Homo sapiens: one gene and its partners. The protein of the gene in region 2 interacts with the protein of the main gene of each other region in a biochemical or structural test. Each region holds a gene or a part of one and is shown on either strand. Other genes may lie near its edges.

Region 1 (2,801 bases), on a different chromosome or scaffold from region 2:
GGGGCCCAGAGCCCCCTTTCAGCAGAGGCCTGGGCGGGATTTAGGGCACAGTGGGAGGGGGAGAGGCGGGCCTGGGGGTCGCAGTCCCCACCCCACCCATAATCAGGTCTCCATAATTACTTCCCTCACCCCGCCCCGTGTAATTACAGAGCCGGGCCGGGGCGGGGGTATTTATAGACAAGGCTATAGATAGCGACGAACTGGGGCGGGGGATGTGGGGGAAGGTGTTCTACGGAGAGCAAGAGGCCAGAGACTGGGACCCACCGACAAACACAGGATAGTCAGGTCCAAGGAGATGCAAATGGGGGACGCGGTTAGGGAGTCCCAGAGCCGAGGTAGAGGGGGAGCAGTGGTAAGATGAGCGAGCAGTCGACTCTGGTTGGAAGGGTCCAGGGAAATGGGGTCACTCGGGGACGTGGGCCGCCTCCGGGCGGGCAACGCCTGAGAAGCACGCAGCGCTCGGCGCCCAGTGCGCCCCCACGAGCGGGCACGGCGCCGGGTCTGCCCGGAGCCCGCAGCGCGCCCGGAGGGAAGGCCGCAGCGAGCCGAGGCGCCGCCGCCCGCTGGCGCGGAGAGGGCACGAGCGAACAAGGCGCCTTTGAGAATCCACCGCCCCCCCTTCCTCCTCCGGCCGGCCCCGCCCCCAGCCTGGCACACCCTCTCCCCCCCTCCCCGACAAAGCTTGCCTTGTGTCCCCCACCCTGCGTGCACCTCTTGGGCCCCACGGAACCTCGGCGGCGGCGTCCAGGGATCGCGTCCGGAGCTCCCAACCGGATACCCCCCCCAAGCCCGAAACGGCGCTGCCCATCCTCATACAGTCACCTCAGTCCAGAAAACAGCGATTTTAATTTGAAAGCGATTTTATGTATGAGAGGGGAAAGGAGCCCCAAAGAGAAGGGACGCAGGGCAAAAATCATGCAGCCCCAGCACCCCACCTCTGCGGGCTGGCCACCTCCCCTCAATTCTCAGGCCAGGATCCTGTGTCCCCAGCCTATGCTATGTGCCCAGGGCTGGAGGAGAGCTGTAAAGGGAAGGCCTCCGGGACTACACTCGTGAAACCATCCCCTGTGGGGGCCCTGTCCTCACAGCCCAGGCCCCTTCCCCAAGTTAGACAGGAAGAGATAGGGGGGGCGGCGGGAAGCTGGGAAGGCTAGTGCTTGGAGAGCCCTAGGGACAGGCCATTTCAGGGCCCTGCCTTTCCCAAACACCCACCTCCACCACTGGCATTTCTTAGTCAACCTGGGAAAGTACAGTACTTCTTTGAGTCTAACTGCAAGTCTCTATCCTCACAGGAAATTAAAAATAGCAGATCGGTTCCTACATCTCCACCAGCCCCTTCACCACCACCACCACCTTTTTTATATTTCAGTCTGACTGCAGAAGGAGGTGAAGTGTAAAAAGAGACTCTGGACAGTGACAGGGCCCCTCCCTCTTCCAGAGAGGCCCCCATCTGCCAGGTTTGAGAGGAGGAAGGCCTGTCAGGGCCCTACTCTCATGTCCATCAGCTTGGGAGGCCTGCCCCCCAGTATCCACCTCTGGGGGAGTTCCCCATTTCCACTCTTCAGATGGGAAGCAAAATGAGGCAAGATGAGAAGGAAGCAAGGTCCTGGAGGCAAGGCCAGTGCTTTGTGCTGGGGGAAGGACAGAGGGTGAGAAATCACCCCAAATCATGGGAGAACCCGACAAATTCAGAGACTCAAGGCCACCGAAGAGAGACAACCAGTCCTCACAGGTATCTGGGGTCCCTTCCAACTTGGGATATCAAGCAGATCCCTTGGAGGGTTTATGTTCTTGGTTCTGCCCTGTACTTCTCACCCCATCAAGGTTCTGGGAACATGGCCCCCCACCCTGCCCCAGGGCTTGGAGTCCCTCTTGGATGTGTGCTCCTCCAGTGTGAGAAGCACCACGTCTGGGTCTGAGCTCAGGCCAGTTGATGGGGAGCCTCAAGCATCTCCATGAGGAAGGTGTCGATGGGGGTGTCACCAATGAGCTTGAAGAAAAACAGATGCTCTAGACACTTAAGGCCAATGGACCGGAGGGCAGGAAGACGTAGCAGCAGCTTGGCAAACCTGGGGTGGAGGTGGGAGAAGGGGATTGAGAGCTGGAAGCACACGGGCCCTGAACACATCCTCATAGCACTCCCCACCCCCAAGGGAGCCTCAGTGCCCCCCAGCCCCATCTCACCGTCCCTGCTGCTCAGGGTACTTCTGTTTGCAGTAGGTCTCCAGTGATGCATACACTTTCTCCCGCAGGACCTCCACCTCACTAGGGTTGGAGAGGCCCTTGGCATCTGGGATGGCAGGGAAGAGAGGAGGAAGAGAAATGAAGACAAACCAAATCAGGATGGCCATGCAGATGTGAGCCACAGGATGCCCCTTTTGGGCTGCACTTGCTTGCCCTTTACCAGAGGCCTGGCAAGGGAAGCAGGGCCCACTGGGTTTGTGGGATGGATCCGTGGATGTGGGTTTTTCCTCGGCCAGTTGGGAGATTTCCAGGTTGAGGGTCTTACTGAGGGGGATAGCTGGGTAACTTAGGAGTCTCGGAGAAGAGGAGGCTCCAAGGTTGCCTTGGCCTTGAGAGACAAAGGTAATCCTCCTCTTACCTGGATTAAACAGAATGATTGCCCTCAGGCAGCCAAGCTCTGTCTTGTCCATCCTCATGTCACGCATTTTGGACACTAGCTCTGTCAGCACCCTGGAGAGGGACCTGCAGGTCACTCAAAGGTCACAGCTCAGCCAGCCTTGGACACGGACCAGCCTATAGCCCCACCCCCTCTATCTACATGCCAGCCTAGCCGAGGG
Region 2 (4,012 bases):
TAGAGTTCTCAAATCTTTCCTTTGTACTTTCCCCTCCCTGAAGCACATTCTTCCAAACAGTGGCATCTGGGTTCATGAGCCCATGTTCCATTTCCCCTGCAGTGTCTGGGGTACTGACATTTGTTGTTGAAATGCCTCCCAGTTCACCTCCAGAGGAATACTGGGCTGTGCCTGGCTCCATGACCAAGTCTCTCTGAAGCACAGCATCTCCACTGCTCAGGGACTCCTGGTCTGTGGGCATTCCAGAAGATTTTGTTCCAGTTTCTTCATTTCTGTTTCCACAGGACGAAAGGCCTTCCGTGCCCTTTACTCCACAATCAGGCAAGCTCTGAAGGCAGCTGTCTTGATCAGATACAGTTCCAGAGTCCACAATAGGTGCTGGCTCCACCTCTTCCCCTTTTCTTTCCACGCCTTTATTTTTCTTCCTACAGGAACGGTCTGTATTCTCCTCCTCAACTATGCTTGACAAATCACAGGGACTTTCAGTCTGTGCAACAGGGCTCCCTGGGCAGCACTGAGTGCTCTCAGTCTCTTCAGAAGAAGAAAGTCGCTGAGGGTCCGTGGGCTCCGGTGCACAGGGAAGAAACTGGCCATCTGTCTCTGGGGCACTGGAAGGATCCTGTGCTGTCATCATTAAGGGCATAAGACTGTCCATCTGCTTGAGGTTTGTTTTCTAGGAGGAAATGAAATACACTTTTAAAAAACTGCCTGTAGGAGAAGATGTCACTGACACCTCTGAGCAAAAATTCTGTTGGACAGAACTCACTTCTATTCTAGCTCTTCTAAGGTCACATGATAAGCGAATCTAAAAGAATACAAATAAATTTCCTCTTATTTCTGATATTACTTTCCTTTCATATCTGCCTATATACTGGGATGTTCAAAATAGATTAGGATATATGAAATATCTATTTTCTAAATTTTGAACTTATTTTAGGAAGTAGATGAAAACTGAGTCTCGCCGGGCATGGTGGCTCATGCCTGTAATCCCAGCACTTTGGGAGGCTGAGGCAGGCAGATCACCTGAGGTCAGGAGTTCGAGACCAGCCTCAACATGGAGAAACCCTGTCTCTACTAAAAATACAAAATTAGCTGGGCGTAGTGGTGCATGCCTGTAATCTCAGCTACTTGGGAGGCTGAGGCAGGAGAATTGCTTGTACCCGGGAGGCGGAGGTTGCAGTGAGCCGAGACAGCACCACTGCACTCCAGCCTGGGCAATAAGAGCAAAACTCCGTCTTAAAAAAAATAAAAATAAAAGAGTCTCAAAAACCTGATTTTTAAAAAGCTCAGTGAATATCTTCAATTGAGCTGCTAACATTAAGGTGGGCTCTCTCATTCTGAGGCCAGGCTGAAGTGCAGTGGTGTGATCACAGCTCACCGCAGCCTTGAACTCCTGGGCTCAAGTGACCCTGCCGCCTCAGCCTCTTCAGTAGCTAGGACTACAGGTGTGCACCATTGCACCTGACTAATTGTTTTATTTTTTGTAGAGACGGGGTCTCACTATGTTGCCCAGGCTGTTCTCCAACACCTGAGCCTATGGGATCCTCCTACCTTGGTCTCCCAAAGTGCTGGGATTATAGGGCCTACACCACTGTGTCCCACCTATATTTTTCATTGTCTTCAGAAGGGCAGAGTCTACTTACACCCTGCCTCATATATACAAGTAAAAACAAATCCTAGCTCTTTTCCATTACAAGGTGCAGCCAATGTGCCTGTGCCCTAAATACTTACTGAGTTCAGTGTCCTTTAATCCCCAAAATATGTTCCAACCAATCTAACTTAACCATCGAGTTATGGGGTCATAATTTCAGGAACAGTGGCATGGCAGATATTCTTTCACCTTTTGATAAAATCAGAACATATTAAATATAAAATAAATGAGAACATATACCTATATACTGTCAGAGTATATTATGGATACTATATGTAATCTCAAAAATGGATTTTGCAACTTTAAAGTATTTAAAAAATATAAACAGATATAACCAACAGCATGGGAATGATTAAGAAAATCAAGGTTCATAAAACTGATGGAAGAAATACTAGCCATTATTAACTATGAGGACCATATTGCAATTAGAAAAAAATTATTAATCTAAGTTTATAAATATGCAAAAATCCCATGTGCATGCAGCAAGGTTTAAAATGGAGAAAAACAAATACAGGTGATCTTTAGTGATTTTACCTTTATATCAAAATTTCAAAAATTCTTATAAAAATATTTTCTCAACACCTAAAATCTATTTTTCCAAACATCTGGTTTGCTCGCCATTCATTCATTACCTGATCTACTGCAATAATATGCATACCTACTGCCATCCATCCTCTCATTCACCTACTCACTCAGTGAATATATTGGGCACTTACAGGGTTCCATCATCAGACCATTCCTATCTACCTACTGAGCCTATTGTAAAAGTTTATATGTACAAGTGTAAAATGTGTCATGCTTGTTAAAGTCTTTCTAGTAGAGTGTACAAGCAAAATGGACTTTCACTAAAAGCTTCTGTGTTAGGCTCCTTAAGAGTATTCAAAATTAGCTTATTTCCAGTCCTGCTGAGAGTACGACAGTCTCCTAAAAATCAGGAAATGAAGTCATTAAATTTAATAAATGGTAAACATTATAAAACAGAAATCTGGCGAAACAAGTAGTGTTGCCTAAAGAAAGTAGCACATGTATGTTCCCACAGTTTTAATTTCTCGTATTTGCCTGCCAACCATTTCCATATCTTGGCAGGTAGCTTTGGTACCTGCAAAACTATATTTTCAAGTGAACTACCATTCACCTAGTAAAAAGAGCTCTAAGGAAAAACCTGATTGCCTAGAAGTCCATTCAGAGGAAAATGAAATGTCACGTGCTCTGGAACAAACACAATTCTAAAACACAAAAGTGGGAGCATCACATAACCCTATGGAATTTCTTGGCTTGCTGGTCTCAAATAATGCATGCTCCCAAAGAAGCCTCTGGCATTGAGCTGACCTTAAATGAAATTACTGTCCAGTGGTTTCCAAATCAAATCAGCTCTGAAATAAACTGGGTGGAAAAATTACCTAAACACAGCCTTTCAGATGTTATGCCCAAGAGAGATGTACACATATGACGTTTATGTTATTCGTAATAAATGCTAACAGGGAGTCTGTAATGTTTTTATGTCTGGCAACAACTTTATCTTGAAGACTTGAGTGGATTATAAAATCTTTTCTGTTTTTTTTAGCTATCTTTGTACCATACAACTATTGATTTAAATATAGTAACACTATATTTAAATGGTACATATCATCGCCACTAAAATAGTTGTAAAAATACTCCTGATTAAATTTGGTTCTTGTTCTTTGGCAACAATCTCAGAAACTGTTGGTTCTTTCATTTTGTAAAGTTAAGCCAAACACAGACAAATATCCTTTTATGCCAGAAATTTAGTTCTAGTTGTTGCATATTTCTGTACCTGAAATGTGTGTCTTCCATTATTCCCAAAACCAATGAAAAAAACCTCTCAGTCCCCCTACGGCTACAACCTTAATGCTAGCTCTGATCTGTAAGTGGTAACATTTAATACTGCTAATACTGCTTTACAGGTCTCAGAATCTTTGGGGAAAGTCCTTCTTTTTCTGTTTTTGAGACAAGGTCTTGCTCTGTCACCCCGGCAGGAGTGCAGTGGTGTCATCTCAGCTCACTGCAACCTCTGCCTCCCAGGCTCACATGATCTGCCTGCCTCAGACCCCCAAGTAGCTGGGACTATAGGCGTACGCCACCATGCCCAGCTAACTTCTGTAGAGCCAGAGTTTCTCCATGTTGCCCAGGCTGGTCTCAAACTCCTGAGCTCAAGTGATCCACCTGTGTTGGCCCTTCCAAAGTGCTGGGATTACAGGCATGAGCCACTGTGCCTGGCCAGGAAAGTTTTTTTTTTTTTGAGACGGAGTCTCGCTCTGTTGCCCAGGCTAGAGTGCAATGGCGTGATCTCGGCTCACTGCAAGCTCCGCCTCCTGGGTTCACGCCATTCTCCTGCCTCAG
Region 3 (4,012 bases), on a different chromosome or scaffold from region 2:
GCTGGTGGCATATATGGAAACACTTTTATTTGCTTTTGGTTCCTAAGACACTTGGGCAGACTGCCCGCCGCTGCTGCTGCCATTGCTGGCCAACAGCCCCTTTGATTGCATCTTTTTTTTTTTTTTTTGCCGGGGTGGGAGAGGGTGGAATCTAACTCTGTCACCCAGGCTGGAATGCAGTGGTGAGATCACAGCTCACTGCAGCCTCGACCTCCTGGGTTCAAGCAATCCTCCCACCTCAGCCTGCAGAGTAGCTGGGACTACTGATGTGTGCCACCCCGATGAACTAATTTTTAAATTTTGTGTACAGACAGGGTCTTGCTATGTTGCCTAGGCTGGTCTCGAACTCCTGGGCTCAAGTGATCCTCCCACCTCGGCCTCCCAAAGTGCTGGGATTCCATGTGTGAGCCACTGTGCCTAGCCTGATTACAAAAACCAAAACGGACTAAATTTGTAATTTTTAAAAAAGGATGTCCTAACCCTAACTTTCACTTTTTTCTAGTGGAAGTCTCACACTGTGTCCTTCCCACTCTCGCATTTTCATAATGCTGGTCATGGGACCCTTATCAATCCTAATCATTCTTAAAATAATAATGACCTCAGAAGAGCCAAATTTTCTAAAGATGGGGGAGAGGCATCGACGATACCTCCAGGTGCCCAGCGACTCCCTGGAGGCGGTGGTCCTGGCAGTTCCAGTCCAGATCTAAAAATTCTCAACAGGACAATTTATCTACCAGGTGGACAGAGAGAGAAAGTGTTTCCAGGTCCATATATTCTTGACAAACTACCATAATCAACGCTGCCTTCCCAGCTGGACTGAGGTTGGTAAGTTGGTTTTGAAGGCTAAAACAAAAATTTTAGATGTTGAAAAAACTACCTTACATACAAAGGAGACTTAACAACCTAAACCATTGTAAAAAATAACCAACTCTTGTGAAATCTGCCATTTGAAGTAAAACTGCCATTTGAAGAAGACTCTACCCCCTCTCTCGATCCGCAGGGTGACTGGCTCCCACCCAGCCCAGGCTATGAAGACACATGTGCCTCGTCTGCGCTCCAGAGAGCATCTACTGTCACCAAGAGTTAAAACAATAAAACATCATATCTTTAAAAGCAACATAACAAAAGATACGGGAGCTGCCAAATGGGGCCCGGAGGAACACTGACAAGTAAGGTGTCAGTCTGTCCCTAAGAACACCACCATTCCCACAGACAGCTGGACTGGGTGGGTTCAGGTTGACTGGACGGAGCTGAGTGGAGCAGGAAGCTGGCGGGCTTCGGGAGCTTGTCTCGTCCCGCTTACCACGGGTGCTAGCTTATGACAGTCCAGAGCGGGGGTCTTGAGACTCTGTTTTCTGGGCTCTTCTACGCAAACCTGGAAATGGGCCTTTCCACATATTAGTTACAACCACGAAAACAGTGAGCCAAAAACAAAACAACAGCTGCATTTTGATAGCTTATCTAACAGATTTTTTTTTTGTTTGTTTGTTTTTAAGACAGAGTCTCGTTCTGTCACCAGGCTGGAGTGCAGTGGTGCAGTCTTAGCTCACTGCAACCTCCAACTCCCTGGTTCAAGCAATTCTCCTGCCTCAGCTTCCCGAGTAGCTGGGATTACAGGCATGTGCCACCACACCCGGCTAATTTTTGTATTTTTAGTAGAGACAGGGTTTCACCATGTTGGCCAGGATGGTCTCGATCTGCTGACCTTGTGATCCACCCGCCTCGGCCTCCCAAAGTGCTGGGATTACAAGTATGAGCGACTGTGCCTGGCCCAAACAGTTCTTTAAAATTCTCCATCCTATGATTAAAAAGCAGCATGTTGTCTTTCTTTAGATTCAGGAAACAGAAGTGAAGTCTTTGAAATAAATATTTTGCTGCTTTTTACATACTTCACCTTTGGATACATCTAGACTTATAGGATTATAAACATTGTTAAAAAGTGCTGATTAGTTTTCAGAATTATAAAGGAGCACAATAGTCAAAAGCGGGGTGAATGGGAAGACAGGCCACGAATTTTGAGGTTACCAGTTAATTAAATGGTAAATCACGAATGTGATCTAAAGCAATGTGCATTGATTAACATCGGGTGAGTTAAAATCAGACCATTGAGCATAATTCGCCGTAATCTTCCCAGTCCTGAGATTAGCCACCTACCCCCAGCATTTGAGTTCTATGCTCTTAGAAGTACTGGTTAAAACAAAGATATGGAATAATATGCCGGTTACCTACAGCTCAGACTGTCCAAGCTCTAAGGTTAAAGTGGTGGATATTTGTGCAAAATCGTGCTGCTCCCCCGTCTCCTTTGTAGTGCTGTCAGCTTCAGAACTCCTGGAAAAGGTGTGGCTGATCTGAAGGAACTCAGTACATGTCCCTGTAGATCTCCTGCAGTAGCGGGTGCAGCGCAGCATCCGACTCCGTCTTCTTGATGATCTGCACCAGCTGCGCATGCTCCGTCACCAGCTGCCGGAGGTCTGCCATTTTTTGAAGAAGTTTTGGGAAGAGAAAGATATCGTCCGGGTGGTTGCTCTGCAGGTGGAGTCTGAGCACATGTACAATACCCTCCTGCATTTTTTCAATGTGTCCTACGTTTAGAAGGCCAGGACGATCTAGTCTCGAAAGAAGAGAGAGAGGTTTGAGTGTGATAATCACCCAAGAACTGCTTATCAGTTTCAGGAACCAAACATGCCTATTTTATGTGGCCTTTCTTAGAAAAAAACTGAGCTGCCTTTAGATATTGTCAACTTGACTGGAAGATAGACATAGGTTTTTCCAAAGTCAATAGGTGAAGTAGGGACAGACAGGACCAGTACTCTTTCCTAAATATTCATACTACTAGGCGGCAATAGTGCCCTAAGTACACCTTATGGTGCGGCCTTTTCACTTGTGATTTACCTGATGACCACCTGTCAGGGAGAAAAATTAGAGCTAGTAGGAGGAACAGTACATTCTGGAGATCACAACCACCAGTTTTGCATAATATGGGAAATGAAGCTTTTGAATCCAAACTAGATATCAAGCTTCAAGTGTTCCACCATATTTAAGGAGTGATTGTGTTAGAACTAGGTTTTGTAGGCCAGGCACGGTGGCTCACGCCTGTAATCCCAGATACTCGGGAGGCTGAGGTGGGAGAATCGCTTGAACCTGGGAGACGGAGATTGCAGTGAGCCAAGATCAGGAGACCCAGAGTGGGGAGGAGGGTGGGGCAGGTCTGAGACTTGGTGCAGGAAGAGTCAACATTCACACCAGATGACCTGCCTGGGGTAGCTGGCACTAGACATCCTGGGACAGTCTCAAAGCATGAGACCTGATTCTTGGTCCAGAAAATACTGCCCTGAGCCATGTTCAGCAGGCGGTGCTCCCTTACAGACCCAGTCATTACTATGATTCTTAACAGGGTTGCTAGTGATGAGGATTTAAACATCTTCATTGTTTTTGGTTGTAAATGTAATTATTAAGTTTTTATTTCTAAAATTCTTGTTTTTGTATTGTTTTAGTGATGGGGTCTTGCTCTGTTGCTTAGGCTGGACTGGAACTCCTAGGCTCAAGCAATCCTCCTGCCTCGGCCTCCAGAGTGGCTGGGGCTATAACTATTAAGTCTCTAAAGAGAGGAATTATTGCCGGGTGCAGTGGCTCATGCCTGTAATCCCAGCACTTTGGGAGGCCGAGGTGGGTGGGTCACCCGGGGTCAGGAGTTTGAGACCAGCCTGGCCAATATGGTGAAACCCCATCTTTACTAAAAATACAAAAATTAGCCAGGTGTGCTGGCATGTTCCTGTAATCTCAGCTACTCAGGAGGCTGAGGCAGGCGAATCACTTGAACCCAGGAGGCGGAAGTTGCAGTGACCTGAGATCGTGCCACTGCACTCCAGCCAGGGTGACAGACGGAGACTCTGTCTCAAAAAAAAAAAAAAGGAGGAATCTTTTGAAAAATAGAAATCCCCCCTCATAATTTTAATCCCACCATAATAGGTTTAACATATATCTCACTGGACATTTTTCTATATACATAGGA
Region 4 (4,012 bases), on a different chromosome or scaffold from region 2:
TCCCAAGGCTATAAATACCTCGGCTGGCGTCGGCCCTGGCCATGGAATGTCGGTCAGAACTGGGGCGAGTGGGGGTGGGCTGGTCTGCCTGGGCACCTCCCTCCGTTCCCCTGCGAGTGACCCCTGAGACTCTCTGTACCCCACTTTGGATGGAGTGGCAGCTGGATCCCACCTCTCTGTAGCAAGGGAGGCCCAGGCCACGGCCCAGCCAAGGCCCCAGAGGCACCAGAAAAAGGTCAGGCTCTGGGTTGGAACTGCACCCCACTTTCCACCAAGTATCTCCCCAGAAATCACCTGAACCCACCCCGGTGAGACGGGCGTCTCTGTATAACTCTCCCCTCTCTCCCTTTCAGTGAAAGAATTCTTAGCCAAAGCCAAAGAAGATTTTCTTAAAAAATGGGAAAGTCCCGCTCAGGTAAGGCTGCCGGGTGCAGAGCCCAGGGAGGGGTGAGCTGCTAACCCCCAGCCCCTGGCTGTGTCCCAGCAACACAGCTAGAATTTCAGAAACCCCATAGAAGGCTTCAGACCCTCCCCATTTGCTCCCTAGGTGCCCATGGGGGCTCCTGTGTGGAGACACCTGACTGCCCAATGCCAGGCACCCCCATCCCACCACCCCTCCCAACGGCCCGCCCCTGCCCCCAGCACAGCTGCCAGCAGCTTCCAGGCCCCAGGCCAGGGCCGGATCTGGCCCCTGCCACCCGCCTTAAGGAATGTGCCCTCTGCCATCTTGATTTTCCGCCCCCTGTCCTCACCCCGCTGACCCCACGTGCTCCCCGGGGCCCCCTCTGCCGGTGGCAGAGGGGATGCCCCAGACCTTAGCCAAGCAGGCCGCGGGGAGGGCGTGCCCTGAGCCTACCGACCCCTCTGCCCACAGAACACAGCCCACTTGGATCAGTTTGAACGAATCAAGACCCTCGGCACGGGCTCCTTCGGGCGGGTGATGCTGGTGAAACACAAGGAGACCGGGAACCACTATGCCATGAAGATCCTCGACAAACAGAAGGTGAGGTGGCCTGTCCTCGCTCAGGGCCTGCCTGTCAGGCCTTTGCCTGGACTGTGCCCACTCCTTAGAGTGCCCTATCCACCCGTTCACTCACTTGCTTTTTTTTGATTCAGAGTCTCGCTCTGTCGCTCAGGCTGGAGTACAGTGGCGTGATCTCGGCTCACTGCAACCTCCACCTCCCTAGTTCAAGCGATTCTCCTGCCTCAGCCTCCCGAGTAGCTGGGATTACAGGCGCCTGCCACCACACCCAGCTAATTTTTGTATTTTTAGTAGAGATGGGTTTTCGCCATGTTGGCCAGGATGGTTTCGAATTCCTGACCTCAGGTGATACACCTGCCTCAGCCTCCCAAAGTGCTGGGATTACAGGCGTGAGCCACCGCGCCTGGCCGCTTGGTTTTTTTGTGGGGGACAGGATCCTGCTCTGTTGCCCAAGCAGGAAAGTGCAGTGACGTGATCATAGCTCACTGTAGCCTCAAACTCCTGAGCTCAAGAGATCCTCCTGAGTAGCTGGGACTACAAGCGCACACTACCATGCCTGGCTAATTTTTTTTTGTTGTTTGTTTGTTTTTTGTTTTAGACAGGGGGTCTTGCTGTGTTGCCCAGGCTGGTCTTGAACTCCTGGCCTCAAGTGATCTCCTACTTCAGCCTCCCAAAGCACAGGGATTACAGGCATGAGCCACCATGCCAGGCTCACCCACTATTCCCCGAGCCCCCATAATGTGCCAGCCCCAGGGGTCAGAAGGGCCCTGTGCCGCCTTCCCAAAGCTCCCTCTCCAGGCCGGCCATGGATTCAAAGCCAGGCACTGTGACACAGGGTCAGACACCAGCCCAACAGGAGGAGAACAAGAGCACTCTTGGGGGAAGTGGTGTTTATGTGCACTTTCTTCCCGTAAATATTTTTGTGATCGGACTTTATACCAGGCACTGCTATAAAGCAGCAATGTAACTAGCAGAAATGTAACCTGAGCCACAGAAGCAATTTTAAATTTTCTGTTTGCTCCATCATAAACAGTAAAAACAGCCAAGCACGGTGGCGCACGCCTGTAGTCCCAGCTACTAGACAGGCTGAGGTGGGAGGATCACTTGAACCCAGGAGTTCAACTCCAGCCTCGACAACACAGCCAGACCCCATCTCTAAAAAAACACCCAAAGTTTGTAATTAAAAGAGAAAATGAAAGAAACAGGTGTCATTCATGAAATTCATTTTAATGACATGTTTGGGGCTTTTTTTTATGTTTTTTTTTTTTTGAGACAGAGTCTCACTCTTGTCGCCCAGGCTGGACTGCAGTGGCGTGATCTCAGCTCACTGCAACCTCCACCTCCCAGGTTCAAGTGATTCTCCTGCCTCAGCTTCCCAAGTAGCTGGGATTATGGGTGCCACCACCACGCCCAGCTAACTTTTGTATTTTTAGTAGACTTGGGGTTTCACCATGTTGGTCAGGTTGGTCTCGAACTCCTGACCTCAGGTAATCCGCCCGCCTCAGCCTTCCAAAGTGCTGGGATTACAGATGTGAGCCACCACACCTGGCCTAATGATATGTTTTAATTAAGCCAGTATATCTACAGTATTACCCTTTCCATATATTATCAATGTGAAAATATCATTAATGAAACATTTTACATTCCTTTTGTTTTTTTCCCAGTCCTCCATGACTTCGGAAATATTTCCTTTTTTTCTGTACTGAAGTATCTTTAAAATCCAGTGTCTATTGTATGCTTACAACAGTTCTCAACTCTGATGGTAAATTTTTCCTGGAAAGATAAGAAAAAGCAGGGAAGTTGAAAAAGCAGATTCACATGCCCAAGTTGTTCCAACCATGCCTGAAAGTCACCAGTACCTGCATCAAGAGTTTAATTTTTGTTTTGTTTTGTTTTGTTTTGTTTTTGAGATGGAGTTTCGCTCTTGTTGCCCAGGCTGGAGTGCAATGGCATGATCTCAGCTCACTACAACCTCTGCCTCCGGGTTTCAAGCGATTCTTGTGCTCCAGCCTCCTGAGTAGCTGGAATTACAGGCGCCGGCTACCACGCCCAGCTAATTTTTTAATTTTTTTTTTTTTTTTTTTTGAGATGGAGTCTCGCTCTGTCGCTCAGGCTGGAGTGCAGTGGCACGATCTTGGCTCACTGCAACCTCTGCCTCCCGGGTTCACGCCATTCTTCTGCCTCAGCCTCCTGAGTAGCTGGGACTACAGGCGCCCACCACCACGCCTGGCTAATTTTTTGTATTTTTAGTAGAGATGGGGTTTCACCGTGTTAGCCAGGATGGTCTCCATCTCCTGACCTTGTAATCCACCGGCCTCGGCCTCCCAAAGTGCTGGGATTACAGGCGTGAGCCACCACACCTGGCCAGTTTTTAAATATTTTTAGTAGAGACAGGGTTTCACCATTTTGGCCTGGCTGGTTGTTGTTTTTTTTTTTTTTTTTTTGAGACGGAGTCTCGCTCTGCCACCCAGGCTGGACTGCAGTGGTGTGATCTCAGCTCACTGCCAGCTCCACCTCCCGGGTTCATGCCATTCTCCTGCCTCAGCCTCCCGAGTAGCAGGGACTACAGGCGCCCGCCACCACACCCGGCTAATTTTTTGTGTTTTTAGTAGAGACGGGGTTTCACCATGTTAGCCAGGATGGTCTCGATCTCCTGACCTCGTGATCCACCTGCCTCGGCCTCTCAAAGTGCTGGGATTACAGGCGTGAGCCACCGTACCCGGCCTGGTTGTTTTGTTTTTGAGACAGGGTCTTGCTCTGTTGCCCAGGCTGAAGTGCAGTTGGGCTCAAATGATCCTCCCACCTCAGCCTCTGGAGCTGCTGGGACCATAGTCGTGCCATGCCCAGCTAATTGCTTTTGTTGTCCTTGTTGTTGTTTGTAGAGATGGGGTCTCGCTACATTGCCCAGGCTAGTCTCAAACTCCTGGGCTCAAGCGATTTACCTGCCTGGGCCTCCCAAAGTGCTGGGATTACGGGCGTGAGCCACCATGCCCAGCTGGTGTCAGTTTTTTAATTTATATTTTAGATACT

Evidence for each region.
Region 1: the proteins of AKAP13 (region 2) and RXRB form a complex in vitro, tested with the Homo sapiens proteins (one study listed by BioGRID).
Region 3: the proteins of AKAP13 (region 2) and PPARA form a complex in vitro, tested with the Homo sapiens proteins (one study listed by BioGRID).
Region 4: of the proteins of AKAP13 (region 2) and PRKACA, one has a biochemical effect on the other in vitro, tested with the Homo sapiens proteins (one study listed by BioGRID).

What each region holds. Positions count from the first base shown.
Region 1 is NC_000006.12:33,192,761-33,195,561, forward strand, and holds the end of RXRB (retinoic acid receptor RXR-beta), read right to left. Parts: intron 2,707-2,801; coding exon of another isoform or gene 2,695-2,706; coding exon 2,603-2,694; intron 2,291-2,602; coding exon 2,185-2,290; intron 2,070-2,184; coding exon 1,922-2,069; 3' UTR 828-1,921; downstream 1-827. UniProt on the Homo sapiens protein: Receptor for retinoic acid. Retinoic acid receptors bind as heterodimers to their target response elements in response to their ligands, all-trans or 9-cis retinoic acid, and regulate gene expression in various biological processes.
Region 2 is NC_000015.10:85,575,591-85,579,602, reverse strand, and holds part of AKAP13 (A-kinase anchor protein 13), read right to left. Parts: intron 674-4,012; coding exon 1-673. UniProt on the Homo sapiens protein: Scaffold protein that plays an important role in assembling signaling complexes downstream of several types of G protein-coupled receptors.
Region 3 is NC_000022.11:46,233,727-46,237,738, reverse strand, and holds part of PPARA (peroxisome proliferator-activated receptor alpha), read right to left. Parts: intron 2,607-4,012; coding exon 2,359-2,606; 3' UTR 1-2,358. UniProt on the Homo sapiens protein: Ligand-activated transcription factor. Key regulator of lipid metabolism. Activated by the endogenous ligand 1-palmitoyl-2-oleoyl-sn-glycerol-3-phosphocholine (16:0/18:1-GPC). Activated by oleylethanolamide, a naturally occurring lipid that regulates satiety.
Region 4 is NC_000019.10:14,103,751-14,107,762, reverse strand, and holds part of PRKACA (cAMP-dependent protein kinase catalytic subunit alpha), read left to right. Parts: coding exon of another isoform or gene 1-52; intron 53-353; coding exon 354-415; intron 416-874; coding exon 875-1,003; intron 1,004-4,012.